Linked DNA regions of Homo sapiens: region 1 is linked to region 2. The links come from fine-mapping of genetic effects on gene expression. A gene starts in region 2. The other region holds a variant in brackets. All regions are shown on one strand. Distances are from middle to middle. Region 1 has its middle 9.8 kb from the start of MRFAP1. Region 2 holds the start of LINC02482 (long intergenic non-protein coding RNA 2482).

The links.
Region 1: its variant is fine-mapped to the expression of LINC02482 in atrial appendage (GTEx, PIP 0.95).

The regions. Positions count from the first base shown.
Region 1 is chr4:6,643,371-6,657,644 of GRCh38, forward strand. No RefSeq gene overlaps it. Among named protein-coding and RNA genes, the nearest start is that of MRFAP1, 9.8 kb to the left of the region's middle. The variant G/A (reference allele first, on the strand shown) is at 4,602.
Region 2 is chr4:6,669,670-6,677,669 of GRCh38, forward strand. It overlaps LINC02482 (long intergenic non-protein coding RNA 2482), which reads right to left and starts at 4,212. Exons shown (of 2, transcript NR_134665.1): 1 at 4,015-4,212; 2 at 1,059-1,324. It overlaps MRFAP1L2 (Morf4 family associated protein 1 like 2), which reads left to right and starts at 4,406. Exons shown (of 1, transcript NM_138699.3): 1 at 4,406-6,378. The coding sequence starts at 4,544. The coding sequence ends at 4,903. RefSeq lists an enhancer at 3,400-4,008 and a silencer at 4,481-4,710.

The DNA.
Region 1 (14,274 bases), 23 kb before region 2:
CACCTCCTCCCCCGTCCCAGCCTTGCATTCCTCCTCTTCCACAAGTGTTAATCCCTAAAAAACGTGCATCTAGTTTTCATCTTGGAGTCCACTTTCTGGGCAACCTAGTTGGTAGAAATCAAACAAAGCCATGTGTCCCTAGCACTAATAAAGATAGAATGTCCCAGGAGAACACTTGAGGGGGAGGTCTAGGAAAGCTTTCCAGAGCAAGTAACTCTTTCAGAGCTTGGCCTTGAAAGAGGAGCACAGCTTCCGAGGTCAGGAAGAGCAGGAGAGGCATGCTAGGCACAGGAAACAATGGAAGATGTTCAAGGTTTTCTGTGTGAGTTCCACACAGAGGAGGGAGAAGAAATGTATAGGACAGAATTATGAACTGGGAAACAACCACGAAAACTACATTTCGTACATTTGCCAAAACAAGAAATGTAACATTGGTACAACACTACCAACTAGACTTTTCTCTGCTTTCACCAGTTTCCCCACTAAGGCCCTTTTTCTGTTCTGGGATACTACATTGCATCGGGAAGTCGATTGTTTTCAATGAGTAAGATTTATAAATGACACGAAAGTGATCCTTCATCTCTCCCCAGCTTCCCAGTTCCCCTCTCAGGAAACTAGAAGTTTCTTATACATCCTTACAAATACTAATGTGTTTGAACGGCTTCCACTTTTTTTTGTTTTTGGTGAGACAGGGTCTCTGTGTCTCACAGGCTGGAATGCAGTGTTGTGACCACTCACTGCAGCCTTGACTTCCTGGTGTCAGGTGATCCTCCCACCTCAGCCTCCCTGGTAGCTGGGACCAGGCATACACCACCATTTCTGGCTAATTTTTGTATTTTTTTTTTTTTTTTTTTGTGGAGGTGGGGTTTCGCTATTTGTCCAGGCTGGTCTTGAACTCTTGGGCTCAAGTGATCACCTTAGCCTCCTGAGTAACTGGAACACCACCGCGGTTAATTTTTGTATTTTTTGTAGACAGTTGTTTGCCATCTTGGCCATTTTGGTCTCAAATTCCTGAGCTCAAGCCATCCACCCACCTTGGCCTCCCAAAGTGCTAGCAATACAGGCATGAGCCACTGCGCCCAGGCCACCTGTTTGTTTTGTTTTGTTTTTTACATTAATGGTAGCACACTGTATAATCTGTTCGTGTCCTTCATTTGTTTACTTGGAAGTCTTTTCCTATCTAACATCTAAATCTGCATTCTTTTTTTTTTTAAGGCTGCATAGTGTTCATTCTTATGCCAGAGTTTGAAAACTATTGTCCTAAAATCTTTCCAGTAACTCCTTAGTTCCTCTTTTTTATGATTCTGGTCACAACTGCAATGCAGCCACTAATTCCCAATTGCCCCAGCTCCTGAATTTCATACTCCTGGCTTGCTAGCAATTGGAGGAGCAATCCAATCTTGCATTTTCTAAGCAAAGAATGTGGTAAGAAGCATTCTGAGAGACAGTCTTACGTGGCTGTACAGTCATTAAATTTTCTGGCTGGAGTTGCCATATTTATTTATTTGTTTATTTATTTATTGAGACAGGGTCTAACTCTGTTGCCCAGGCTGGAGTGTAGTGGCATGATCTTGGCTCACTGCAACTTCTGCCTCCCAGGGCTCAAGCAATTCTCCTGCCTCAGCCTCCCGCGTAGCTGGGGTTACATGTGGGTGCCACCATGCCCTGCTAATTTTGGCATTTTTAGTAGAGACAGGGTTTCACTATGTTGGCCAGGCTGGTCTTGAATTCCTGGCCTCAAGTGATCCACCTGCCTTGGCCTCCCAAAGTCCTGGTATTACAGGATGGCAGAGCTGGAAATAACCTCAGAGAGCAATGAAGCTTTTCTGGGTTAAAATGTAGAAGTCATTAGTGCTGTTCACCAAATAAATTCCAATTCTCTGCCTTCTAGGCACAGAGTAAGATGGCACTTTCTGGCCCCCTTGGGGTTGGGTGGGCCCACGTGATTAATTCTGGCCGATGAGCTACAAAGGAAACTTACATCTGTTGCATCCAACCCAGAACCTCCAAAGCAACACCCTGCAGAGCTGTCTCTTCCCTCTGGCACAGGAACCAGCAACATTCCAGATGGTGGCTGAGCTTAATGACCACAGTTCCCTACCAATCTATGATGAGTATATACCACAAACAAGGAAAAACCTTAGTTGTTTTAAGCCACTGAGATTTGGGGATTGTTTGTTACAATAACAACTTAGACTAAGATGACTGATACAGATATTCATTATTTCTTCCATTCCTTGTGTTTTGATGAAAGGGTTGTTCTCCCTTCTACCTGAGGCCCGTTGATCACATCCCTCCCACTAGCCCAGGCATTGTCCAACAGGTTATCTTCTGTCTCTGGCTTTCACGTGGAGCTCTTGACTTTCCTCTGCCTTCTAATGACTTCAAGGTGAAAGAAAGCGCTAGTTCAAACTCCTACTCCTGGCCATTCTCCCCCTTCCAGGCAGCAGGTAAACATGGAGTGGCTTGAGTTTCTACCATCTTCCAGAGATAAATGGGGATTTATTACCCTGGTTAACACTGTGGCCAGGTAAATCTACAAAATCCATCCAGTGCCTGCTTCAGTCACTGCCTGATATGGTTTGGCTGTGTCCCCACCCAAATCTCATCTTGTCCTGGGAGTGACCCGGTGGGAGGTCACTGAATCATGGGGTGGTTACCCCCATACTGTTCTTGTGATAGTGAGTTTCCACGAGATCTGATGGTTTTACAAGGGGCTTTTTCCCCTTTGCTCTGCACTTCTCCTTCCTGCCGCCATACGAAGAAGGACAGGTTTGCTTCCCCTTCTGCCATGATTGTAAGTTTCCTGAGGCCTCCCCAGCCATGTGGAACTGGGAGTCAATTAAACCTCTTTCCTTTATAAATTATCAGTCTCGGGTATTTCTTCATAGCAGCATGAGAACAGACTAATACACAGCCCAGCATATGTTAGACCCTCTCTGAGTCAATTCTCTTTTCCCCGTCTCTGATTTCCATAATGTTCTGTGGTACCTATTTACTGGTTTATATCCCCATTGCTTCCTCCTTCAAACTCTATACCATGGTTCACAAAATCCTGCATTCCATTATTCCCAAATTAATCCATATTATTCTTTGCCTCTTCAAAGAACATTTCTTTACCAACTCTTAACAGCTGAAACTAGATTTTCCCCAAGCCCTGGGCTTCCCTGTAGCCTTGTTGGTGATGGTTCCTTACAGCACTTGCCCACTGCCTGGGGCAGATACTGCGTTCATCAGGACTGCATTTTTGCCAGAGAGGAGTGAAAAAAGAAAAAAAGAGCTTAGGGTTTTGACAAGGACATCACTGCAACAATACATGATGTACTCTGAGTGGGGAAGTATGGAGGTGAAGAGCAGGAGAGCAATAGGCGAAAGTAGCTGGTAAAGTGAATGGAGATCCCAGCATGTTAGTGACTACAGTGAAAGTGTCACCTGGAGGATGGGATGTGGCCAGAAAATAGGAGGGCTGATATTGGAAAGCAATTTATCATATTAAAAACTCTGATTGTCAAATAAAATGTATCTGTGGATGACATCCTGCGAGCTACGTGCTTCTGGGGCCTCAGATCAATTCTTGTTTTAACACCTGTGAAGCATTTACTATGTGCCAGTTACCTACAATTCCTCAAAAGCCTTTCACGACCCCTCAGTGGGGCAGATGCCATTATTAAAATTAGTCTCGTCTTATCAATGAGGCACAGAGATATTAAGTAGGCCAGGTCTGAGACAATAACAAGCCCCAAGTCACTCTTGGGAGTGAATGGCCAAGCAGGGTGGAGGAGCTCCTTGGATATGAGGGCCCAGGTGTGGGGCTGGTGGCTGTGTGAGCATGGAATTCGCTCAGGACGATGGCAGGGCTTGGGGTGGAGGGGAAGGCCAGGAGCCAGGTGCCCAAGTTTGCAGTGAATGACGGGACTCCAATGGGGTGAAAAGAGATTGGAGGATGACAGAGGTGAGAAGAGGGAGAGGACAGTCAGATGACCAGGGAGTGCTCCCAAGGAGCACCATTTTGGACAAGAGGGAGGAGAAGTAGAGTGTGGACATGGCCTGGGAGAACACTGCCCCCAAATTCTGATTGACACACGAGGGACATATAGAAATGAGTGGCTTTTCCCTCACAGGCCTGAGGATGAAATAGCACTATTCTCAGGGGTAAGGTCGGGGGAGGGCAGAGCTCCTCCAAGAAGTCAGGCACATGCTGGAGGCCCAGGAACAGGTTTGGGGGTGAAGAGGAGTGGAGAACATCACTGGAAACTTGTCCTAGGCTGAGTTCTCCTTGGTTCATCAATGGGAGAAACAGCAGTGACAGGCTAGTAAGTTTAGTCCTGAATTTAGTCTCTTTGAGGGAGGACAGGCATGGCCTTGGTGTGATCGCTATGGAGGCAAAGATGTGGCAGTTGGAGACTGTCACTCAACTGTGCTTCCTGCAGTAGCTTCTATGAATGAGCTTGGAGAGGCACCACTGCTGGTCATTTGGGGCCTCACAGGAAAGGGGTTCTGCATCCCAAACCCAAAGAGTTACGGGAGATGGCTCCAAAAGAAGCCATCTTACAGGGAAATGAGACTGAGGCCCCAAACCTTTCTCAAGCATCTTCAGTAAA[G/A]GTCCTTCCTCAGAAAGTGAGTGCCAGTCACGTGGGCAAACACCAGCTGATGACTGTCACCTTCCTGTCAAGGACACTGGCTCCACAGGGACACCACTGGGAAAGCAGGGGAAGGACAGAGCGCAGTGAGGAAAATGCCGGCATCTTCACAAGATTTGGGCTGTGGCTGCCTGCACATTGGGGCTGGCTGACAGCAAACAGGCAGGAAGCATCTGAGCGGGTCTTGTTTGTGGTGTTTTTTTTGTTTGTTTTTTTTTTTTGAGATGGAGTCTCGCATTGTCGCCCAGGCTGGAGTGCAGTGGCATGATCTCGGCTCACTGCAAGCTCTGCCTCCCGGGTTCACACCGTTCTCCTGCCTCAGCCTCCCGAGTAGCTGGGACTACAGGCAGCCGCCACCACGCCCGGCTAATTTTTTGTAATTTTAGTAGAGAAGGGGTTTCACCATGTTAGCCAAGATGGTCTTGATCTCCTGACCTCGTGATCCGCCTGCCTCGGCCTCCCAAAGTGCTGGGATTACAGGCATGAACCACCGCGCCCGGCCCCCTTGTTTGTGTTTTTATTTCTTGTTTTCCTTTTGTTTTTTTGAGACATGGGGTCTTGCTTTGCCCAAGCTGGAGTGCAGTGGTCTGATCACAGCTCACTGCAGCCTTAACCACCCAGGCTCAAGCGATCCTCCTGCCTCAGCCTCTCCAGTAGCTGGGACCACAGGCATGTACCACCTCACCTGGCTAATTTTTTTATTTTTATTTTTTAGAGAGATACGGTTTCCCTACGTTGCCCAGGCTGGTCTCAGACTCCTGGGCTCAAGCAATCCTCCTGCCTCAGTCTCCCAAAGTCATCCGAAGGTTTTGAAGGAAATATATGGCCAAAGAAATTCCAAGGTGAGTCTGCTAAAACTTGGGGTTGTTCAGCCCCTGAAGGAAGTGCTGAGCCCCAGCACCTGCACCAGCATGAAGAAGGCTTCAGAAACTGCAAAGCCCCTGGAGGGGGCAACCTCTGAGGCACATTTCATACAAGGCCTGAGAAGATAATAGATAATAAAGTCTCCCTGAGGCAAAAGCCAGGGACCTAGAGGGAAGGAGGCAAAATAGTTTCTGCTAGAGAGCAAGACCTTTGATGATCCCCAAAGGCCATAGGCACCATGTATTTCCCATTCCTCCCTTTTCCTCCCTATTCTGTGTGTTAGAAGCAAGCCAGCCCATACTCCAGGAGAGAAGAATTATGCTCCACCTACTGAAGAGATGAGTAGCAAGAAGATTGTGGACATATTTTTTTAATCTTTTCAAATTCCTTTTTATCATGTGGACGTATTTTTAAAACCACCACCACTATTGTCGTTATGAGGTAGGGGGCGGGACTCGACTCTGGAGGCAGGGTTTAGACTCCAGACCAGACTGAGACTAGCTGAAACAAGGAAGAGTTGGAAGCCTCTCCATGAGACACGCCCACCAGTGCCATCAGTTTACCATTGCCATGGCAACCCCCAGAAGTTACAGCCGCTTTCCATGGCGATGACCCAATGACACAGAAGTTACCACCTCTTTTCTAGAACTTTCTGCATAATCTACCCCTTAATTTTTTTAGTGTATTACTTTATTTATTTTTTCTTTTTATTGAGACAGAGTCTTGCACTGTCGCCCAGGCTAGCGTGCAGTGACGCGATCTCGGCTCACTGCAACCTCCGCCAACCAGGTTCGAGCGATTCTCCTGCCTCAGCCTCCCAAGTAACTAGGATTATAGGTGCCTGCCACCATGTCCAGCTAATTTTTTTGTATTTTTAGTAGAAACGGGGTTTCACTATGTTGGCCAGTCTGGTCTCGAACTCTGACCTCATGATCTGCCCACCTCAGCCTCCCAAAGCGCTGGGATTTCAGGAGTGAGCCACCACACCCAGACTTTTTTTTTATTTTTTGAGACAGAGTCTCCCTCTGTCACCCAAGCTGGAGTGCAGTGGCACGATCTCAGTTCACTGCAACCTCCACTTCCTGGGTTCAAGCAATTCTCCTGCCTCAGCCTCCCTAGTAGCTGGGATTATAGGCATGAGCCACCTCACACCCAGCTAATTTTTGTATTTCAGTAGAGACAGGGTTTCACCATGTTGGCCAGGATGGTCTCAAACTCCTGATCTCAAGCAATCCACCCACCTCAGCCTCCCAAAATGCTGGGATTACAAGCATGAGCCACCGCACCTGGCATCTACCCCTTAATTTGCATGTAATTAAAAGTGGGCATAAATATGACTGCAGAACTGCCCTGAGCAGCTCCTCTGGGCTCACTGCCTATGAGCACACCACCTGTGCTGCTACTGTGCACTGCTGCATCAATAACTCTTGCTGTCTACCACCACTGGCTCACCCTTGAATTCCTTCCTGGAGGAAGCCAAGAACCCTCCCAGGCTAAGCCCCAATTTGTCCTGCATCAGTTATATTCCCATGATATGATGTCTCTGAGACATCATAGATTCAAAAGAATCTAAACTGCCAACATTAATAATAGTTTCTAGAGTTTCAAGGTTTCTAGACACAAAAATCAATAAAAATCAGTAGTGTTTCTCTTTACCGGGAACGAAGAGGAAATATATTTTCTGAAAGGTACCACTGATAATAGAACCCAAAAACTTTTTTTTAATGGTGTGTTTCCTTGGGATACCATAACAAACTGCCACAAATTAAGTGGCTTAAAACAGAAATTTGTTTTTTCATAGTTCTGGAGTCTAAAATTAAGGTGTTGGCAGGGCCATGGGCTCTCTGAACCATCTGGGCAAGAATCTTTCCTTGCTTCTCCCTGGCTTCTGGTAATTGTCAGCAATTCTTGGCATTCCTTGGCTTGTGGCTGCGTCAGTCCAGTCTGCCTCCATTATCCCATGGCCTTCTTCCCTTTGTCTTCATGGAAGGACACCAGTCATTGCATTTAGAGCCCGCTCTCATCCAGTCTAACCTCATCTTAACTAGGTCTGCAAAGAACCTATTTTCAATAAAGTCACATTCTAAGGTTCTGGGCAGAAAAATTTTGCAGGGACATTATTCAACCCAGTACAAATGGTTGGAAAATATATATTCGTATATATTAAATTTTTAATATGTGAAAAACCATTATGCATAAAATTATGTTGAAATACATTAAATAATGACAAAATAGATTAAGAAAATTAGTATCATAATTATTCTCCAAACTGCTCCCACAAATCAAGGCAGTCCCAATAAAAATCTCTTCAGATGGGTCTGTTTTGATTGTTTGGGTTGAATTTACAAAAAAAATTAATTTGAGGGCTGAGTACAGTGGCTCATGCCTGTAATCCCAGCATGTTGGGAGGCCAAGGCAGGAAGATCACTTGAGGCCAAAAATTCAAACCCAGCCTAGGCTACATAGTAAGACCCCATCTCTACCAAAAAAAAAAAAAAAATTAGCTGTGTGTGGTGGTGCATGCCTGTAGTCCCAACTACTCAGGAGGCTGAGGCAGGAGGATTGCTTGAGCCTGGGAGTTCCAGGCTGGAGTGAGCTATGATTGCACTACTGCACTCCAGCCTGGGCAACAGAGCAAGGCCCTGTCTCTAAAACTAAAATAAAAATAAAAACCATGAATTTGGCTGGGCATAATGGCTCACACTTGTAATCCCAGCACTTTGGGAGGTGGAGGCAGGCATATCACTTGAGCCCAGGAGTTCAAGATCAGCCTGGGCAACATGGCAAAACCTAGTCTCTACAAAAAATTTAAAAATTAGCTGCATGTGGTGGCAAATACCTGTAATTCCAGCTACTCTGGAGGCTGAGGCAGGAGATCTCTTGAGTCTGGTGGGTGTGGGGAGGAGCACAGGGAACTCACAAATTTGAAATTTAGATGGACAAGCAGAAAGCCAGGATATTCCTGCAGTAGCACCAGATGGGAGGCCTTGCTATACTTTACCAAATATTAATATTTATTATAAAGCTAACAGTAATTAAGTCAATGGAGTAATGGCCCAGAGATAGGTAAAGACCAGTGGAACAGAGTATACAGCCCAGATACAGATATGAGCAAATATGGACATACGATACCTGACACACGTTACACAGCAACCCAGAAAGAATGGATAAAACAGTCAGCATGGGCCCACCGCGGTAGCTCACGCCTGTAATCCCAGCACTTTGGGAGGCCGAGGCGGGCGGATCACGAGGTCAGCAGATCAAGACCATCCTGGCCAACGTGGTGAAACTCCGTCTCTACTAAGATACAAAAAATTAGCTGGGCATGGTGGCACATGCCTGTAGTCCCAGCTACTTGGGAGGCTGAGGCAGGGGAATCGCTTGAACCCGGGAGGTGGAAATTGCAGTGAGCCAAGATCTCACCAGGCTGGTGACACAGCAAGACTCAAAAAAAAAAAAAAAAAAAAAAAACCACCACCAACAACAAAAACAGTCACCATGTAGGGCTAGGACAAATGGCTATACATGTGGGGGAAACTGCAATTAGATCCCTGCCACAAACATCACAAAAAAATTATTTTCAGATGGAGTAACCCACAGATATAAAAAACTAATTATCTAACTAAATACTTTAGAGAACTTAAAGGAAAATTTGTATGGCTTCAGAGCATGAAAGGCTTTCTTTACAAGACAAAAAGCAAAAAGCAGAAAAGACTGATATTTTGTCTTCACCAAAACTAAAATCTTAACTTATACATGAATGCTGATGGCAGCATATACTAGTCAAAAGGCAGAAACAACCCAAATGGCCACCAACAGAATCAACTGATGAATGAATAAACATTCATTCATAAACTGCGGAATAGCCATACAAAGAAATATTATTCAGCCATAAAAATTAACAAAGTATAGCCAGGCACAGTGGCTCACGCCTGTAATCCCAGCACTTTGGGAGGCTGAGGCAGCAGATCACCTGATGTCAGGAGTTCAAGACCATCCTGGCCAACATGGAGAAACCCCGTCTCTACTTAAAATACAAAAATTAGCTGGTGTGGTGGGGCATGCCTGTAGTCCCAGGTACTCAGGAGGCTGAGGCACGAGAATCGCTTGAACCTGGGAGGCGGAGGTTGCAGTGAGCCAAGATCATACCACTGCACTCCAGCCTGGGTGACACAGTCAGACTTTGTCTAAAAAAAAAAAAAAAGAAAGAAAGAAAGAAAGAAAAAGAAAAGGCCATCTTCAAGCCAGGGAGAGAGGCCTCAGGAGAAGCCAACCCTGCTGGCACCATGATCTTGAACTTTCAGGCTCCAGAATCATGAGAAAGTAGATTTTTGTTGTTTTAAACACCCAGTCTGTGGTATTCTGTTACGGCAGCCCTAGCAGACTAACACATATGATATGTACAGACAGGTAAATCCACAGAGACAGAAAGGAGATGAGTATTGGCCATTGGGTAAGGGGAGGCAGGATGTGGAGTGATTATTATATGAGTACTGGGTTTTGTTTTGTTTTGTTTTTTTGAGATGGAGTCTCACTCTGTCGCCCAGGCTGGAGTGCAATGATGCAATCTTGGCTCCCTGCAACCTCCGCCTCCCAGGTTCAAGCGATTCTCCTGCCTCAGCCTCCCAAGTAGCTGGAATTATAGGCACCCGCCACCACGACTGGCTGATTTTTGTATTTTAAGTAGAGACGGGGTTTCACCACGTTGGCCAGTCTGGTCCTGAACTCCTGACCTTGTGATCGGCCCACCTCGGCCTCTAAAAGTGCTGGGATTACAGGCGTGAGCCACCGCACCTGGCCTTGAGTACTGGGTATTTTTATAGAAAGATGAGAAAGTTTTGAAACTAGAGAGAGCTAGTGGTTACACAATATTGTGAATACACTAAATACCACTTAATTGTACACTTTAAAGTGGGTAATTATGTTACATTAATTTCACCTCAATTTTTAAAGAAGCCAGAACAGTCCAATTCATGGGACAGAAAGTAGAATGGTGGATGCCAGGGGCTGGGGGAGGGAGGATTGGGGAATTAATGTTTAATGGGGACAAAGTTTCAGTTTGGGAGGATGAAAAAGTTCTTGAGGCAGATGGTGGTGATGGTTGCACAGTTTGAATGGACTTACTGCCACTGAACTGTACCCTTAAATGGTTAAATGGTAAATCTACTATGCATATTTTACTATAATAAATTTATTTTACTTTTTTGCAGTCAATTTTTAAGCTAAAATATGGTGCTAATCAAAGGAACCATCATCAAAGTGAAAAGTTGAGCTGCATTCTGTGCTATCTTCTCGATTTTTCTATAAACCTAAAACTGTTCTAAAAAATAAAGTCCATTTAAAAGAAAATAGTCAAGCTTCAATTGGGAGAAGATATTTGCAACACACACTCTAGAGGAAATATTAAAGAGAATCCACCAAAATGTATAAAAAGATAGGGTTAGAAAAAAAGCCCACATTGCCAAGTCAATCCTAAGCCAAAAGAACAAAGCTGGAGGCATCACGCTACCTGACTTCAAACTACACTACAAAGCTACAGTAACCAAAACAGCATGGTACTGGTACCAAAACAGAGATACAGACCAATGGAACAGAACAGAGCCCTCAGAAATAACACCACACATCTACAACCATCTGATCGTTGACAAACCTGACAAAAACAAGAAATGGCGAAAGGATTCCCTATTTAATAAATGGTGCTGGGAAAACTGGCTAGCCATATGGAGAAAGCTGAAACTGGATCCCTCCCTTACACCTTATACAAAAATTAATTCAAGATGTATTAAAGACTTAAATGTTAGACCTAAAACCATAAAAACCCTAGAAGAAAACCTAGGCAATACCATTCAGGACATAGGCATAGGCAAGGACTTCATGTCTAAAACACCAAAAGCAATGGCAACTAAAGCCAAAATTGACAAATGGGATCTAATTAAACTAAAGAGCTTCTGCACAGCAAAAGAAACTACCATCAGAGTGGACAGGCAACCTACAGGATGGGAAAAAATTTTTGCAATCTACTCATCTGACAAAGAGCTAATATCCAGAATCTACAAAGAAATCAAACAAATTTACAAGAAAAAAACAAACAACCCCATCAAAAAGTGGGCGAAGGATATGAACAGACACTTCTCAAAAGAAGACATTTATGCAGCCAACAGACACATGAAAAAATGCTCATCATCACTGGCCATCAGAGAAATGCAAATCAAAACCACAATGAGATACCATCTCACACCGGTTAGAATGGCGATCATTAAAAAGTCAGGAAACAACAGGTGCTGGAGAGGATGTGGAGAAATAGGAACACCTTTACACTGTTGGTGGGTCTATAAACTAGTTCAACCATTGTGGAAGACAGTGTGGCTATTTCTCAAGGATCTAGAACTAGAAATATCATTTGACCCAGCAATCCCATTACTGGGTATATACCCAAAGGATTATAAATCATGCTGCTATAAAGACATATGCACACATACGTTTATTGCAGCACTATTCACAACAGCAAAGACTTGGAATCAACCCAAATGTCCATCAATGATAGACTGGATTAAGAAAATGTGGCACATATACACCATGGAATACTATGCAGCCATAAAAAAGGATGAGTTCATGTCCTTTGTAGGGACATGGATGAAACTGGAAACCATCATTCTCAACAAACTATCACAAGGACAAAAAACCAAACACCGCATGTTCTCACTTATAGGTGGGAATTGAACAATGAGAACACTTGGACACAGGAAGGGGAACATCACACACTGGGGCCTATTGTGGGGTTGGTGGGGAGAGGGGAGGGATAGCATTAGGTGATATACCTAATGTAAATGACGAGTTAATGGGTGCAGCACACCAACATCGCACGTGTATACATATGTAACAAACCTGCAAGTTGTGATCACATACCCTAGAACTTAAAGTATAAAAAAAAAAAAAGAAGATAGGGTTAGAATTAGGGTTAGGAGAACCCAGAGGAGAATAATAAGGTGGGGGCACGGCTTTGAGGGTCTTCATTCATTTTTATCCATCCTTAGACTTTCTGCAGACTAAGCTTCAAGTTTTCAACTGCTGCTACAACAAATTATCACAAATTAACAGCTCAAAATAACACACATTTATCATCATAGTCCTGAAGGTCAGAAGTCACGAATGGCTTAGAAGGTTTCTCTGCTCTAGGTCTCACAAGGCCAAAATCAAGGTGTTGGCTGGCTGGGCTCCTATCAGGAGGCTCCAGAGAGAAACCGCTTCTAAGTGCATTCAGGTTGCTGGCAGAATCCAGTTCCTTGTGGTTGCAGGCTGGGCTTCAGCTGGGGGCCACATTTAGCTCCTGGAGGCCTCCCTCCTGTCCTTTCATGTGGCCACCTGTGTCTCAAAACCAGCAGTGGTTTGTCAAATCCTCCTCATTGTCCAACCCCCCGCCCCGCCCCGCCCCAGCCACAAAGCTGTGAAGCTAGGGTCCAAACCCCCCACATCTCAGAGTCAGCACAGGCAGGACCAGTCATCTCCTGCTTGGAATAGCACGGATTTCTTCTGCCAAATCTCTCTTCTGCCTTCGTTTTCTATCTCTGACTCCAGCCTAGGAGCGTTTTTCACTTTAAGGACTCAGGATTAGGCTGGGCCTACCTGGATAATCCAGGCTATTCATTCTCCTTAAGACCCTTAACTTTAATTACATGAGCAAAATCCATTTTGCCATGTAATATGATATATTCGTAATTACAAAATATGTCATATAATTTATAACACAATCACAGGTTCCAGGGATTAGGATGTGGACTTCTATGGGGGTCACTCTGCCTGCCACACCTCCCTAGAGGTGATGGTACCCAACTCCACTAAGTTCAGGTGGTGGCACAGGCCAAGAGAGCTACCCTCAGGCTGATTGGCCCTCAGTCCCCCAGCCAGCAGGTTGTGAAGCCAGGGTCCGAATATTGGATGTAGTTCCCACACGACTCTGAATGCACTGTGTAGTCTAATGACTGTCATAGTAGCGATGCCACCTGCCTCTGCCTGGTGTTTTGGCAACTGTACAATGCACTGTCATGCCTTTTTTTCTCACTTCTCTCACAGTCACAGGGGCCTACCAGCTCCATTTCACCCCTAGAGAACTGAGTTTCCAATCAGGGGCACTTGTGCAAGCAGGGTCTCCCCAGTCTTTACCATTAGCCCGTTTGTGGGCCACAGACCAGGAATATAAACGTATCTTTTTTTTTTTTTTTTTAGACAAAGTCTCAGGCTAGTCACCCAGACTGGAGTGCAATGGCTGGATCTCAGCTCACTGCAACCTCCGCCTCCCGGGTTCAAGCGATTCTCCTGCCTCAGCCTCCCGAGTAGCTGGGACTACAGGCATGCGCCACCACCCCCAGCTAATTTGTGTACGTTTAGTAGAGACGGGGTTTCACCATGCTGGCCAGGCTAGTCTCAAACTCCGGACTTCAGGTGATCCGCCCACCTCGGCGTCCCAAAGTGCTGGGATTACAGGCCTGAGCCACCGTGCCCGGCCTTAACATATCTTCTACCCCCTCCAGACAGCATTCTTTAGGGTAAACAAAATGTACCGAGCCCCTGCTGGGCAGCCAACCCTGGCGGAGACGTGCGGACAGATTCTACCTTCAAAGAGCTGTCCTGGGAAATGCCACTGTTTGGTAACAATTTTGTTTCCAAAAACCTCGCCTGGCCTGTGTCGGGCCGGCGGAGACAAGCCAGCGGTTCCCTGGCGAGGCGGGGACGGTTTGAGGTGCAGCCGTGGGTTTCGTGGCCCTGGGTCACG
Region 2 (8,000 bases):
ATTCCTCATGGTCTGCAGTTTGGCTGGGAGTTGGATGATCCAGGCTGGGCTCAGTAATGGTCTGCGGGCCACCTGGTCTAGGCTAGGCCTGTCTAGAGCAGCTTGGTTCTGTGTTTCTCTCACCATCTTCCCAAGACCGGTGCCCGTTCTTCTCATAGCGAAGGCAGAGACGCAGAGGAAAGCGAGTCCAACCGCGAAAGCCTCTTTCAAACCTGTGCTTGTGTCCTCTCTGTGAACCTCTCATTGGCCAAAGCAAGACATGAGGCAGAGAACATGGATGAATGAAGGGGTGGGGAATTGGGGTCATTTATACTACCTACCATCATCTGTGCCCACTGCCCCCATTATTCATGGAAAAATTGCCCACCCCCATCTAAGGACCCCCTTCCTACTTTCTTCCAATCATGGCCTCAAGCAAGAAGTCTAGCATCTTGTGAGCCACATCAGGTCCTAATATGGCTTTTATTGGTCTAGAAGCTTATGCACTTTTTGAAAAGACAAGTTATTGTCCACTTAGACCCAACATTCAGTGATGAGACAGGGACAGGATAAGGCCCATTGGTAAGGGAAGAATGAAGGGGTGAAATAGCAGTCACATAGCTATTTTGAAACTCGGTGGAGTAAACATTGCCAGGTCCTCTACTTTAAAGCTAGGGAATGTAAGGCTTTGGTTCTGCAACCTGGAAGTGGCTCAGCAGCACAGGAGTTGGCAAACATTTTCTGTAAAGATCTAAACAGTAAATATGTTAGGCTTTGTGGGCCACATACAGTCTCTATCACATATTCCTATTTCTCCTTTTCTTTTTTAAAGATATGAAAGTCTTTCTTAGTTCAGGAGCTGCAGTTTGCCATTGGTCCCCACACACTGGCCTGCACTGACACATCCTTCTTTTTCCATCACACTTCTGAAAAGGGCATTTTAAAATGCGCCAGTTTGGGCTACTGAGCCTGCTTTCTGCCGGTGGAAAGATTGGGAGTCTAGAAGTCCTTTGACACTTTGAACTGTCGCTTGGATAAGCTAGAGCATTTTTGCTAATATGTTCACCTCGAAACTTTTGTGGGTTTCCATGTATTTTATTCCATTCCACTCATACCAAGAGACAATTCTTTTTGAGGTGTGTTTAGCTCTCTAGACTTAATTACTGCTGTGTTTGTCACATTGGCTGCAGTGAGATCGTGACATTAGGATTCCTGGGAGCCTGCGCTGGGCAGAATTTAAGATGGCTCCTCCATGATCTTCACTCTCTGGGTGAAAACTGTCGGTCAGCCCATGCCCAGGATTGTTGATCAGTGCTGAAGGTCCTGAGGCTGTTTTTAGCATAGTCTAAAACTTAAGCAAAGCAATAATTATAATTGAGCAAGCAAAATTGTTCTTTAACATGGAATCGATGCTGTTACACAACCACATAAGCACTATTTTAGTCCGTTCACGCTGCTCTAACAAAATACCAGAAACTGGGTGTCTTCTAAACAACAGAAATGTATTTTCTGAGTTCTGAAGGCTGAGCAGTACAAGATCACGGTGCCAGCAGGTTTGGTGCCTGGTGAGGGCCCACTTCTGGTTCATAGAAGCCCATCTTTTTGCTATAACCTCCCACAGCAGAAGGGGTAAGGCGGCCCTGTGGAGTTGTTTTATGAGGGTGCTAATCTCATTCATGAAAGCTGAGCCTTCATGACCACATCACCTCCCAAAGACCCCACCTCCTAATATCATCACATTGGGGATTGCTTTGCAACATATGAATTTTGGGGGGACTCACATATTTGGACCATGGCAAGCCCCTTAAAAGCAGAGTTTTCTCCAGCTGGGAGCAGAAGGGGATGACAGAGAGGCTGGAAGGATAAGAAGGATCCGACATGCTCTTACTGGCTTTGAAGATGGAGAGGGCCACGTTTAAGGACCGGAGAGTGACCTGTAGGAGCTGAGAGTGACCTCTGGCCATCAAGCATGGAGGGTCCCCTTAACTTTCTGCTAGAGGTACACAGTGAATAAGCCTAGACACAATGACATGCAGTGGGTGCTTAATAAAGATCTCTTGGGAAATGAGCATTAAAGCAACATTTACTGGGCTCCTGCTGTATGCCAAGCCCATTTCAAGCTGAGGAAACAGATGACTAAACTGACTAAGTACCTGCCCCTAGGGCCTGTTTTCTCGCAGAGGCACTTATATAGTCCAGTGAAGAAAGAAATCTTCCAGAATGATTCCTAAAGGCATATTCAGAGCCTGGCAGGGCTGAGGAAACAGTGGTGAATCAGACCCACCTTGGCCTTGGGTGCCCACAGTGGGTAAAGCCAGACTCCAACTTACAGCCAAAGCCCCAGGCAGAGTGAAGCTTATACCCTTAGGAAAAAAGTAGGGGGAGGCTGGGTCACAGCACTCAGCATCAGCACCGAGGCCGCAGCTCTGTGTTCCAGGAGCATCTGCCCGAGGCAAGAGGGAGCGGAGGCCCTGGCTGGGGGCAAATCCCGACGCTGTGAGCACCTGGCTTCTCGGAGCCTGGAATATTCTAACGGGACCACTGAATTCGGTTGTTTATTATTTTTATTTATTTATTTTGAGACAGGGTCTCGCCCTGTCACTGGGCTGGGGTGCAGTGGCGCAATCAGGCGTTCAGAGCTCACCTCGGTCTCGACCTGCTGGGCTCAAGCAATCTTCCCGGCTCAGCCTCTCAAGTAGCTGGGACTATCGGCACGCGCCACCACGCCCAGCTAATTTCTTGTGTTTTTTTTGGTAGGGTTTTTTCCCTTGTTGCCCAGGCTGGTATGGAACTCCTGAGCTCAAGCGATCCTCTCACCTCAGCCTCCCAAAGTGCTGGGATTATAGGCGTGAGCCACACGCCCGGCCTGGGTGTTTATGATTTAGAATGTTGGTGAGAGGTGACAGTGTGCTGGCAGTCCTCACAGCCCTCGCTCACTCTCGGTGCCTCCTCTGCCTGGGCTCCCACTTTGGCAGCACTTGAGGAGCCCTTCAGCCCACTGCTGCACTGTGGAGGCCCCTTTCTGGGCTGGCCAAGGCCAGAGCCGGCTCTCTCAGCTTGCAGGGAGGTGTGGAGGGAGAGGCGCGAGCGGGCACCGGGGCTGCACACGGCGCTTGCGGGCCAGCTGGAGTTCAGGGTGGGCGTGGGCTTGGTGGGCCCCGCACTCGGAGCAGCCGGCTGGCCCTGCCAGCCCCCGGCAATGAGGGGCTTAGCACCCGGGCCAGCGGCTGCGGAGGGTGTACTGGGTCCCTCAGCAGTGCCAGCCCACCGGCGCTGTGCTCGATTTCTCACCGGGCCTTAGCTGCCTTTCCGAGGGGCAGGGCTCGGGACCTGCAGCCCGCCATGCCTGAGCCTCCCACCCCCTCCATGGGCTCCTGTGCTGCCCGAGCCTCCTCGACGAGCACCACCCCCTGCTCCACGGCGCCCAGTCCCATCACCACCCAAGGGCTGAGGAGTGTGGGCGCACGGTGCCGTTCTCGCAGGCAGCTCCACCTGCAGCCCTGGTGTGGGATCCACTTGGTGAAGCCAGCTGGGCTCCTGAGTCTGGTGGGGATGTGGAGAACCTTTATGTCTAGCTCAGGGATTGTAAATACACCAATCAGCACCGTGTGTCTAGCTCAGGGTTTGTGAATATACCAATCGACTCTGCTGGGGCCTTGGAGAACCTTTGTGTCTAGCTCAGGGATTGTAAACGCACCAATCAGCACCCTGTCAAAACAGACCACTCGGCTCTACCAATCAGCAGGATGTGGGTGGGGCCAGATAAGACAATAAAAGCAGGCTGCCGGAGCCAGCAGTGGCAACCGGCTCAGGTCCCCTTCTATTGTGGAAGCTTTGTTCTTTCTCTCTTTGCAATAAATCCTGCTGCTGCTCACTCTTTGGGTCCACACTGCCTTTATGAGCCGTAACAGGTCTGCAGTTTCACTCCTGAGCCGGCGAGACCACGAACCCACCAGAAGGAAAAAACTCCGAACACATCCGAACATCAGAAGGAACAAACTCCAGACGCGCCACTTTAAGAGCTGTAACACTCACCGCGAGGGTCCGTGGCTTCATTCTTGAAGTCAGTGAGACCAAGAACCCACCAATTCCGGACACATTGGGAACTTAGAGCAGTGCTTGGGACATGGTTATCAGCGTCAGATATTTCCTTAAACTAGCGTGAAGTCGACTTTAACCTTCCAGCAGTGTGAGTGAGGGCCCTGACCCTAGAATCAACGCCCAAAGAGCTGTGGCGCTACAGCGGGCGGGGACATGGGGTGCGCATGCGTGCGGGGGGGTACGCGTGCGTGCAAGTGCGCGTGCGCGCGCAGGACCGCTGAGGCGGGAGCCCCGAATGCGGTTCTCGCTTGCTGCGTGGCGGTAAAGGACCGCAGGTGTCGTAAAAGGGCCGCAGTGGCAGCGTCCTGGCCGACGGCTAGTAGCCCATTTTGGATACCGTCCTCGCTGCGGAAAGTTGGGGCAACCTGTTGCTAGTCTGGTCGTTGGTGACAGCGAGGCTTCCGCGCTCGCTGCTGGTGAGCAGCCCCGGCGTGCCCCGCGGGCTGGAAGAGGCGGCGGCGTGATGCGGCCCGTGGACGCGGACGAGGCGCGGGAGCCCCGCGAGGAGCCGGGCAGCCCGCTGAGCCCCGCGCCCCGCGCCGGCCGCGAGAACCTGGCCTCCCTGGAGCGCGAGCGCGCCCGGGCGCACTGGCGGGCCCGCAGGAAGCTGCTGGAGATCCAGAGCCTGCTCGACGCCATCAAGAGTGAGGTGGAGGCAGAGGAGCGGGGCGCCCGGGCCCCAGCACCCCGCCCGCGTGCGGAGGCTGAGGAGCGGGTGGCTCGGCTGTGCGCCGAAGCAGAGAGGAAGGCTGCGGAGGCGGCGCGGATGGGCAGGCGGATCGTGGAGCTGCACCAGCGGATCGCCGGCTGCGAGTGCTGCTGAGCCGGCGAGGCCGCGCGGGTCTGGAGCGGAGCGCGGCGGGGAGTGTCCCGCGTGGAAGGCGCTGGGTAGGCAGGGAGGGGAGCGCAGAGCCGTGCCACGCTCTCCGCGGAGTTGGTTTCATTCTTTTTTCATAGGTAATTAGAGAAAATAATTTGATATGTTGTTGTAAAGAGTCATGACCACTGGAAGTATTTTCAGGACGTAGACCTGGTGGGTCACTACGTGGGGGGAGAGAGGTGTGAAGCGGAGGTACATGCTGGAAACGTGTGAATGTTGTTACGAGATTGGAGCGTTTGCGATGACCTTCCTGCAGGTGGAAGCATTGTGCACAGGTGGTTGGGTTTGTTTGACTCCCGGATATGAGAATATCAAGCTCAAAATTTATGTTGTGATGATGAATTTCTCCCACTTGTACTTTAGGTGGCCAACTGACGAACTGTGTTCACCTGATAAGGAGTCGTGGCTGCTTGGACAGGCTCAAACCAAGAGAGCCTTTCGTTTTGTCTCCCCTGTTTTTCTGCCTGCGTTTTCTCCACATTAGCCACTCAATTTCCAGTACCATCCTGGCGGATGACTTCAGCATTAGATGGTCAGGTGTATTTTTTTATTAATAGGCGCATTCAGTTTGGAAAAGACAGCTTTTCATTAATGTCCCACGTAAAGGAATATGGCCTATACAGTACGTACGCTGCTGCGTGGTCATATTTGTTCCTGTGATCTTATTGTATTTTCAAAGTTTGGAAGTATACTCGTGTGCTTTGCTGTTTTTTTATGCTTCCTGGAATTTGGGGACTCATGAGAGACTTGAGGTTAGAGTTCTGCAAGTGAGAAGACACTACATGGTTGCAGCTGCCACATGAAGAACCCAAGCTCCTGTCAAAGTTGTGAATGCGACTTTGGATGAGATTAAGAAGGCCCAGTGGACGGTTGGTCTTGAAGAGTGGCAGTGTGTGGATTTGAGGACCTCTGCAGACCATCAGATCAAAGGAGGGAGAGCTGTTTTGGGTGTTTTGTTTTTTTTGTTTTTATAGCATTTTGCTTTTTCTTGGAATGTAATTTTCCTATGGCATGTTAACTGGTGCACATCGTGTAACCTGTCTGGTGAGCAACCTACAATTGGGATGAGTTCTAGGTACATGTGTTTGCTGACTTTGGGGTAAACAACTTTGTTATAATACAGTCTCTGCCACAGATGCATGTGACCTCTTCAGGGGCCCAGAGTGGCTGAGGAAGGAAAGCTTCAAGCTGGCCATGGGGGTCCCAAACAGTCATTCCAGGCTTAGATGATGACTAGCCTAGGTCATCAGAGCCCAGACTCCACAGAGACTAAAATCAGAGCTCTGTCTTGTTATGATAAATTTCATTTGCTTGGAAAAAGAAATGCTGAAAGCCAGTGTTTAGAATCTTTGTGCAGATGACCAAAGCAATTGACTTGGCCAAGAAAAGGTAAGGTAAATAAACATTTTTCAAAATGAGTTTCTCCTTGATAGTGGTCACTGTCAAATGGAGGAGAATTGCTTCTGACTCACGAGTTGTTCAAAGCCTGTAGCCCAGGGTGGGGTTTGAGCTGCAGAAGAAGAAGAAGGCAGACCTAGAGTAGGAAAGGGGTGCCTCATGAAGCCATATGGTCTGGCCCCAGCCTTTGGAGAGGTGAAGTCCATTCAGGCAGCTAGTGTTCACTGTGACCACAGAGCTCCACACTATGCCAGGCACTAGGAATTTCTTGGAGAGACGATCTAGTGGGTTGAGACAGGTCTGAAAACACAATTACAGTACAGTGTCCGCAATGCTGGTCTTTGATTCAACGCATAAATTGAGCACCTACAGATGCTGAGACTACCTGAGTGAACAAAGTGCTTGTAAAATTGGATCTGAGGGCCAGGCATGGTAGCTCATGCCTGTAATCCCATTTCTTTAGGAGGCCTGAGCAGGAGGATTGCTTGAGGCCAGGAGTTTGAGATCAGCCTGGGCAACATGGTGAGACCCTGTCTCTAATAGAAAAAAAAAGTTGGATTTGTTATTCATAAGATGCTTAGAATTGTGTCTGGCTATAGTAAGTGTTTCCTAAGTATTTGTTAGATAACCCCTAAATGAGGGAAGCAGGAAAAAAATGATATGTACCCATATTAAATAGTGTAAGTTCTGTGGGGGAAAAAAATGGCATTGGGGGATAGGGTGTGGGATTTCTAGTTGATTTGCATGGTCAGGTAACATGTCTGATATGACATTTGAGTGAAGGCTGATGTGTGGAATGTGCATGGGTGTCTGGGGAAAGAGTCTTCTAGGCACGGGGAACAAGTAGGGTAAAAAGGTGAGGCAGCATGAAACCCCAGTGGGAAGGGAGGAAGTGGTGGGCACCGAGGTCAGAGGGAGAAGTGGGTGGATGTGAAGCTGGTGGGGGGTTGCCAGCAGAGGAGCGATGGGAGCTGACCATCTGAGGTGGTGGCTGCTGTGCTCAGGCCTGACAGTGGGGGACCAGGACAAGAGTGGGAGGCAGCGTGGAGAGTGGAGCACGCGCTGTGTGGATGGGGACGGGTGTGGACTGCGTTGGGAAAGTGCCGAGGGCCTGCCTGTGGACATGAGAGGATTCAGCAATGGCTCTGAGGCTCGGGACCTGAGCACCTATTTAGTACCATTTGTCAAACAAACTGGGCCACTTTTGAAAGTGAAGGGTGGCTCTATTAATAGAAATTCATCTGGGACTGCAGATGTAAACAAGGACTTTCACAGGCAAAGAGGTGCTTACGCTGTGTCTGGTGGGAGGACTTAGGGAGGAGTCCCCTCAGACCCACTGACTTGCTCTGAGCGGAAGCATGGGCACAGCTACACAAACAGCACCTCAAGCATGGGGAACACGAAACAGGCCAGGGGCCCAGCGTGGGCTGCAGAGGCCGCCCGTGGATGGAAATGGGGCGGGGGGAATGGGGGATCCTTCGGGAGACCTGTCTTTGAGTCTTGTGTCTCGGGTAAGGCAAGCGCGCTTACAGTTAAATACATTTCCTTTTTTAAAAAAATTTTCCCTGGGATTGTTAAATTTGCTTTAGCAAACTTGTAAAGAGGAACATCATTATATAGGATGTCAGTGGGATGGCAGGAG